2 linked regions of the Homo sapiens genome follow. Each later gene encodes a partner of the first gene's protein in a complex. Each region holds a gene or a part of one and is shown in the gene's direction. Other genes may lie near its edges.

Region 1 (3,916 bases):
CAGGCTGGGAGGAGACCCCAAGCACATTCTTCCTCTCACTGTCATACTGCAGAAATTAAAGACACATCTTCAGCCTGGGCACCCGCCAAGCGTTTTAAGTCGAAGAGTGGCAGGGGAGGCCTTGAGCCTCAGCTCCATGCCACGTGTAAAGGATGCTTGGAAACTGTCTGCCTCGGCCCCTGGGAGGAAGGCCTGGAACTGGACATTGGGGTGGTGGCTGTCACACGCCAGGCACACAAAACTCCAAAGCCAGGGATCCCCAAATATCCTTCAGAACCCCAGGCCCATGATGTAGCAACCCCCAATTCACACCTTGGAGGTTTCAACTCTTCTTTAAGATGGGCGTGGGAAAGCCTGGATGGGAAACATATGGGGAGGGGCGGGGAGCTGCAGGCAGGAGCCCTTCTTACTACGAAAACCCAAGAAGCAAGGAAGTGGACAGGTCACTAACCCTCATACTACCAAGCCCTGCGGCACCCTGCCCTAGACCACCACTCTAAATGTCTGTTCCCTCCAAAAACAGGACCCCTGTCGCCTATTAGGGAGGGGTTCTCTTGGAACTGACCCACAGTAGGGGGCAGGACTTTGGTGGGTTCAAGAACTGCCATCTCAGCACCTCAGCCCCCTAGTCCTGCCCTGCAGTCGCTGGCACTAGGCGGGGGCAGACCCTGGGCCACAAGTTGCTGCCACATGGTCGGGATAATTGATGAAGGTCCATCCCTCCATTGCTGTCTCCAGCCCTGCCTCTCTGGAAACTCTATATTTTCCCTTTAATTATAGCCCCTGCAGTCTCCCTCTGCTGCCCCACCCGCACCGCTCATCCTGGCTGCCCACGGCCAGCCGGCCAGCCGACGTGGCTCCCTCCCCTTCTGTTCCTTTTTTTTCCCCTTTGCCTTCGTTGCACAAAACCAGCTGGGGGAGGGCGTGGAGAGGGGCGGGGGGAGGCAATGGAATCTTGGATGGTTTGGGGGAGGCGGGACTCCCCGCTTCCACGTTTGCAGCTCTGGAGCACCCGGGGTGGGGAGCTGCACAGGAGGGAGAGAAATGAACAGGGCACTGCAAGGAGACCCCCAGGCCTTCTCTCAGCCCTACAGAGTTTCTCAGGACGAGGTAGATTGGGGTTGAGGCAGAGCCTTGTTGGGGGAATGGGACATGGAGGAAGAAAGGACGTGGAGTTCTAGAGCCATCTTCCTTAGATATAGCCTGCTGTCCTTCGGGTCCCCAGACCCTTTCAGAGTGTACAGATGATTCTCTCTGGTTCCTAAGGCATAGAGCAATGACCGGGATTTTCAAGAAAGAGATGAGGCAGTGGGAAGTAGCCCCTAAAACAAAGTCAATCATCCTCTGCAGCCCATCCCACACCCCCAAAGGAAAGTTTCACCCAGACACCCAAAATATCCCATACATCCCCAACACTGAGTCCAGGTACAACTGGAGAAGGGGCTTTATGCAGCTCCCAGAAAGACACCCCTTTAGCTAAGTGCCCTCCCTCCACCCAGGTTCTCTCTGGTTTGACTGTGCTGGGAAGGAGGGTCTCTAAGCAGCCCCTGGCCACAGCCATGGCAAACAAAACTCTTCTCTAAGTCACCAATGATCACAGGCCTCCCACTAAAAATACTTCCCAACTCTGGGGTGGAAGAGTTTGGGGGATGAATTTTTAGGGGATTGCAAGCCCCAATCCCCACCTCTGTGTCCCTAGAATCCCCCACCCCTACCTTGGCTGCTCCATCACCCAACCACCAAAGCTTTCTTCTGCAGAGGCCACCTAGTCATGTTTCTCACCCTGCACCTCAGCCTCCCCACTCCATCTCTCAATCATGCCTAGGGTTTGGAGGAAGGCATTTGATTCTGTTCTGGAGCACAGCAGAAGAATTGACATCCTCAAAATTAAAACTCCCTTGCCTGCACCCCTCCCTCAGATATCTGATTCTTAATGTCTAGAAAGGAATCTGTAAATTGTTCCCCAAATATTCCTAAGCTCCATCCCCTAGCCACACCAGAAGACACCCCCAAACAGGCACATCTTTTTAATTCCCAGCTTCCTCTGTTTTGGAGAGGTCCTCAGCATGCCTCTTTATGCCCCTCCCTTAGCTCTTGCCAGGATATCAGAGGGTGACTGGGGCACAGCCAGGAGGACCCCCTCCCCAACACCCCCAACCCTTCCACCTTTGGAAGTCTCCCCACCCAGCTCCCCAGTTCCCCAGTTCCACTTCTTCTAGATTGGAGGTCCCAGGAAGAGAGCAGAGGGGCACCCCTACCCACTGGTTAGCCCACGCCATTCTGAGGACCCAGCTGCACCCCTACCACAGCACCTCTGGCCCAGGCTGGGCTGGGGGGCTGGGGAGGCAGAGCTGCGAAGAGGGGAGATGTGGGGTGGACTCCCTTCCCTCCTCCTCCCCCTCTCCATTCCAACTCCCAAATTGGGGGCCGGGCCAGGCAGCTCTGATTGGCTGGGGCACGGGCGGCCGGCTCCCCCTCTCCGAGGGGCAGGGTTCCTCCCTGCTCTCCATCAGGACAGTATAAAAGGGGCCCGGGCCAGTCGTCGGAGCAGACGGGAGTTTCTCCTCGGGGTCGGAGCAGGAGGCACGCGGAGTGTGAGGCCACGCATGAGCGGACGCTAACCCCCTCCCCAGCCACAAAGAGTCTACATGTCTAGGGTCTAGACATGTTCAGCTTTGTGGACCTCCGGCTCCTGCTCCTCTTAGCGGCCACCGCCCTCCTGACGCACGGCCAAGAGGAAGGCCAAGTCGAGGGCCAAGACGAAGACAGTAAGTCCCAAACTTTTGGGAGTGCAAGGATACTCTATATCGCGCCTTGCGCTTGGTCCCGGGGGCCGCGGCTTAAAACGAGACGTGGATGATCCGGAGACTCGGGAATGGAAGGGAGATGATGAGGGCTCTTCCTCGGCGCCCTGAGACAGGAGGGAGCTCACCCTGGGGCGAGGTTGGGGTTGAACGCGCCCCGGGAGCGGGAGGTGAGGGTGGAGCGCGGCGTGAGTTGGTGCAAGAGAGAATCCCGAGCGCGCAACCGGGGAAGTGGGGATCTGGGTGCAGAGTGAGGAAAGCACGTCGAAGATGGGATGGGGGCGCCGAGCGGGGCATTTGAAGCCCAAGATGTAGAAGCAATCAGGAAGGCCGTGGGATGATTCATAAGGAAAGATTGCCCTCTCTGCGGGCTAGAGTGTTGCTGGGGCCGTGGGGGTGCTGGGCAGCCGCGGAGGGGGTGCGGAGCGTGGGCGGGTGGAGGATGAGAAACTTTGGCGCGGACTCGGCGGGGCGGGGTCCTTGCGCCCCCTGCTGACCGATGCTGAGCACTGCGTCTCCCGGTCCAACGCTTACTGGGGCAGGAGCCGGAGCGGGAAGACCCGGGTTATTGCTGGGTGCGGACCCCCACCTCTAGATCTGGAAAGTAAAGCCAGGGATGGGGCAGCCCAAGCCTCTTAAAGAGGTAGTCGGGCCGGTGAGGTCGGCCCCGCCCCGGCCCCATTGCTTAGCGTTGCCCGACACCTAGTGGCCGTCTGGGGAGCCGCTAGCGCGGTGGGAGTGGTTAGCTAACTTCTGGACTATTTGCGGACTTTTTGGTTCTTTGGCTAAAAGTGACCTGGAGGCATTGGCTGGCTTTGGGGGACTGGGGATGGCCCCGAGAGCGGGCTTTTAAGATGTCTAGGTGCTGGAGGTTAGGGTGTCTCCTAATTTTGAGGTACATTTCAAGTCTTGGGGGGGCCTCCCTTCCAATCAGCCGCTCCCATTCTCCTAGCCCCGCCCCCGCCACCCCACCTGCCCAGGGAATGGGGGCGGGATGAGGGCTGGACCTCCCTTCTCTCCTCCCTCGCCCTCCTCCTGTCTCTACCACGCAAGCCACTCCCCACGAGCCTGCCCTCCCGATGGGGCCCCTCCTATTCTCCCCCCGCCCTCCC
Region 2 (3,020 bases), on another chromosome or scaffold:
GAGAATGAATTTGCTGGGAAGTTGATTTTGGTCTCACTTCAGCATCTTCTCATTATTTATGCACATGAAACCTTTCATGTGCGACACTTATTCTATTCTCAAGTGCTAAATGAAACATTTAAGACAGGAGTGGAAACTGTTCACTTTCTCATATGAAAGCAAGATTCAGTGATTCTGTAAGGAGGTAGTCACTGGTATTGTGTTAGGTATTAAGGGGCATATGTGCTTAAACAGAGAAATATGTCTAAAATATTTAAATTCTAATATAAAAAAGAAAGTGACTGTATTATTTAGGGCTGCATTTTAGTTGTAAGAAAAAAGTCCAACTCAAGCAAAAATGGCCCACACAATGGAACAGTCCCAGGACCCACCGGCTTCAGGGGCTGCTCCAGCAATGGCGCCCGGACTCCCTCTTGCTCCGCGTGCCTTCCCATGCACTGGCTTCGTGCTTCAGCGGGGTCTCTGCTGATGGTGCCATTGATGACTGACCTCCATGAGCTTGCTTTACCCCCTGCCAGCTTAAGAACAGTAGTGAAAGAGAACATGTGTGTCCTCCCATTTCCAGTAAAAACTTCAGGCAGGAGCCTCACTGGCTCAGCTTGGTCCCGTTTCCATCTCCCATGCCATCTCCGGCCAGGTGACAGGCTACCATGTCACTGCCTAGGGAAGTTTAGGAAGAGAGTGGCAAAGTGGTGCATTAGAAAGAACATGGCCAGGTCACCCCACCTCCTGGGCGGCAGGCCCAACTCCACCAGTGGTCCACTGTGTGACTTCCCTGCTCCCTCTAAGCAAGTCACTCCTCTCCTCTGGGTCTCTGTTTCCTTACCTATAAAATGAGAACGTTTCTTCATGTGATCTCAAGTCCCTTTTAAAATCGCTAGGATTCTTTGAAAACCTTTTCTATCATCTAGTGCAGAGAACTTGTTGAGGAAGTTGGGATTGGAATGAGCCTCAGCAGATGGGCAAGGTTTGAATAGGAAGAGAAGAGACATTTCAGGAGAAAGAAACAACATAGAGAGACAGATGTAGGTATAAGATATGGTAATAAGCCAAAATGTATTAAGAGTTATAAATGCATGAAATCATCATCAAAGCTTGCTTAGTGATTAACTGCTTATATTTTGCCAGTGCATATGATGTGACATTTTTCTTTAACTCAAACACTAAATTACGATGTCCTCAGGTTATCATAAACCCCATTTGACTTCATGCCTCTACTCTCTCAGGGCTGGCGCTGTGACAACTGCCGCAGACCTGGGGGTGAACCCAGTCCCGAAGGCACTACTGGCCAGTCCTACAACCAGTATTCTCAGAGATACCATCAGAGAACAAACACTGTAAGTGCATTAGCAGCACAAGTGTGTTCCCTCATACTAGACAGTCTCTTTCTACAGGTATCTTTCTTCAGAATGAACCAAGTGTTTTAATTAATTAAAAAAAAAAACAACTCATAAATGACTTAAGTGAAACACTGTATTCCATAATATAGTTTAAGTTATAATTTATGTAACTCTTGAACATCTCCTATTGCCCAGTATGCTGCTAGGTTCTTGAAACTAGGAAGAAATATTATCCTATCTATAAGCAGCTGTCATGAGTCCCCACCTCCCCGCATTTTTTTTTCTGTACACTTTACAGTATTTGCCACTAATTTTTTTTTCCTTCTTCCTTTTTAACAGAATGTTAATTGCCCAATTGAGTGCTTCATGCCTTTAGATGTACAGGCTGACAGAGAAGATTCCCGAGAGTAAATCATCTTTCCAATCCAGAGGAACAAGCATGTCTCTCTGCCAAGATCCATCTAAACTGGAGTGATGTTAGCAGACCCAGCTTAGAGTTCTTCTTTCTTTCTTAAGCCCTTTGCTCTGGAGGAAGTTCTCCAGCTTCAGCTCAACTCACAGCTTCTCCAAGCATCACCCTGGGAGTTTCCTGAGGGTTTTCTCATAAATGAGGGCTGCACATTGCCTGTTCTGCTTCGAAGTATTCAATACCGCTCAGTATTTTAAATGAAGTGATTCTAAGATTTGGTTTGGGATCAATAGGAAAGCATATGCAGCCAACCAAGATGCAAATGTTTTGAAATGATATGACCAAAATTTTAAGTAGGAAAGTCACCCAAACACTTCTGCTTTCACTTAAGTGTCTGGCCCGCAATACTGTAGGAACAAGCATGATCTTGTTACTGTGATATTTTAAATATCCACAGTACTCACTTTTTCCAAATGATCCTAGTAATTGCCTAGAAATATCTTTCTCTTACCTGTTATTTATCAATTTTTCCCAGTATTTTTATACGGAAAAAATTGTATTGAAAACACTTAGTATGCAGTTGATAAGAGGAATTTGGTATAATTATGGTGGGTGATTATTTTTTATACTGTATGTGCCAAAGCTTTACTACTGTGGAAAGACAACTGTTTTAATAAAAGATTTACATTCCACAACTTGAAGTTCATCTATTTGATATAAGACACCTTCGGGGGAAATAATTCCTGTGAATATTCTTTTTCAATTCAGCAAACATTTGAAAATCTATGATGTGCAAGTCTAATTGTTGATTTCAGTACAAGATTTTCTAAATCAGTTGCTACAAAAACTGATTGGTTTTTGTCACTTCATCTCTTCACTAATGGAGATAGCTTTACACTTTCTGCTTTAATAGATTTAAGTGGACCCCAATATTTATTAAAATTGCTAGTTTACCGTTCAGAAGTATAATAGAAATAATCTTTAGTTGCTCTTTTCTAACCATTGTAATTCTTCCCTTCTTCCCTCCACCTTTCCTTCATTGAATAAACCTCTGTTCAAAGAGATTGCCTGCAAGGGAAATAAAAATGACTAAGATATTAAAAGTATTTGAATAGTATAATATGGAGGAGTTTTATCTTAGGGAAACCCCATGGTATGATAACCCCCATCTAACATGTCTTACTTTGGGTCAGCTGACACTTTTGGCATGGCTTGATAAACTCCCAGCTAAACAGTTTGTTTACTCCTGATCTGTAAAGGTCATTTCTTTT

Evidence for each region.
Region 2: the proteins of COL1A1 (region 1) and FN1 are in contact, whole or in part, in a crystal structure (PDB 3GXE), measured with the Homo sapiens proteins. Residues at the interface, in NP_000079.2 of Homo sapiens: Leu261, Pro262, Gly263, Met264, Lys265, Gly266, His267, Arg268; in NP_997647.2 of Homo sapiens: Asp516, Gln517, Lys533, His535, Glu537, His539, Leu541, Gly549, Arg550, Gly551, Arg552, Trp553, Lys554, Cys555, Pro557, Gln560, Phe569.

Annotation. Positions count from the first base shown.
Region 1 is NC_000017.11:50,200,263-50,204,178, reverse strand, and holds the start of COL1A1 (collagen alpha-1(I) chain preproprotein), read left to right. Parts: upstream 1-2,547; 5' UTR 2,548-2,665; coding exon 2,666-2,768; intron 2,769-3,916. UniProt on the Homo sapiens protein: Type I collagen is a member of group I collagen (fibrillar forming collagen).
Region 2 is NC_000002.12:215,360,286-215,363,305, reverse strand, and holds the end of FN1 (fibronectin isoform 1 precursor), read left to right. Parts: exon of another isoform or gene 1-653; coding exon of another isoform or gene 654-660; intron 661-1,226; coding exon 1,227-1,337; intron 1,338-1,679; coding exon 1,680-1,751; 3' UTR 1,752-2,441; downstream 2,442-3,020. Other genes in the region: bifunctional purine biosynthesis protein ATIC, read right to left, coding at 654-660. UniProt on the Homo sapiens protein: Fibronectins bind cell surfaces and various compounds including collagen, fibrin, heparin, DNA, and actin. Fibronectins are involved in cell adhesion, cell motility, opsonization, wound healing, and maintenance of cell shape.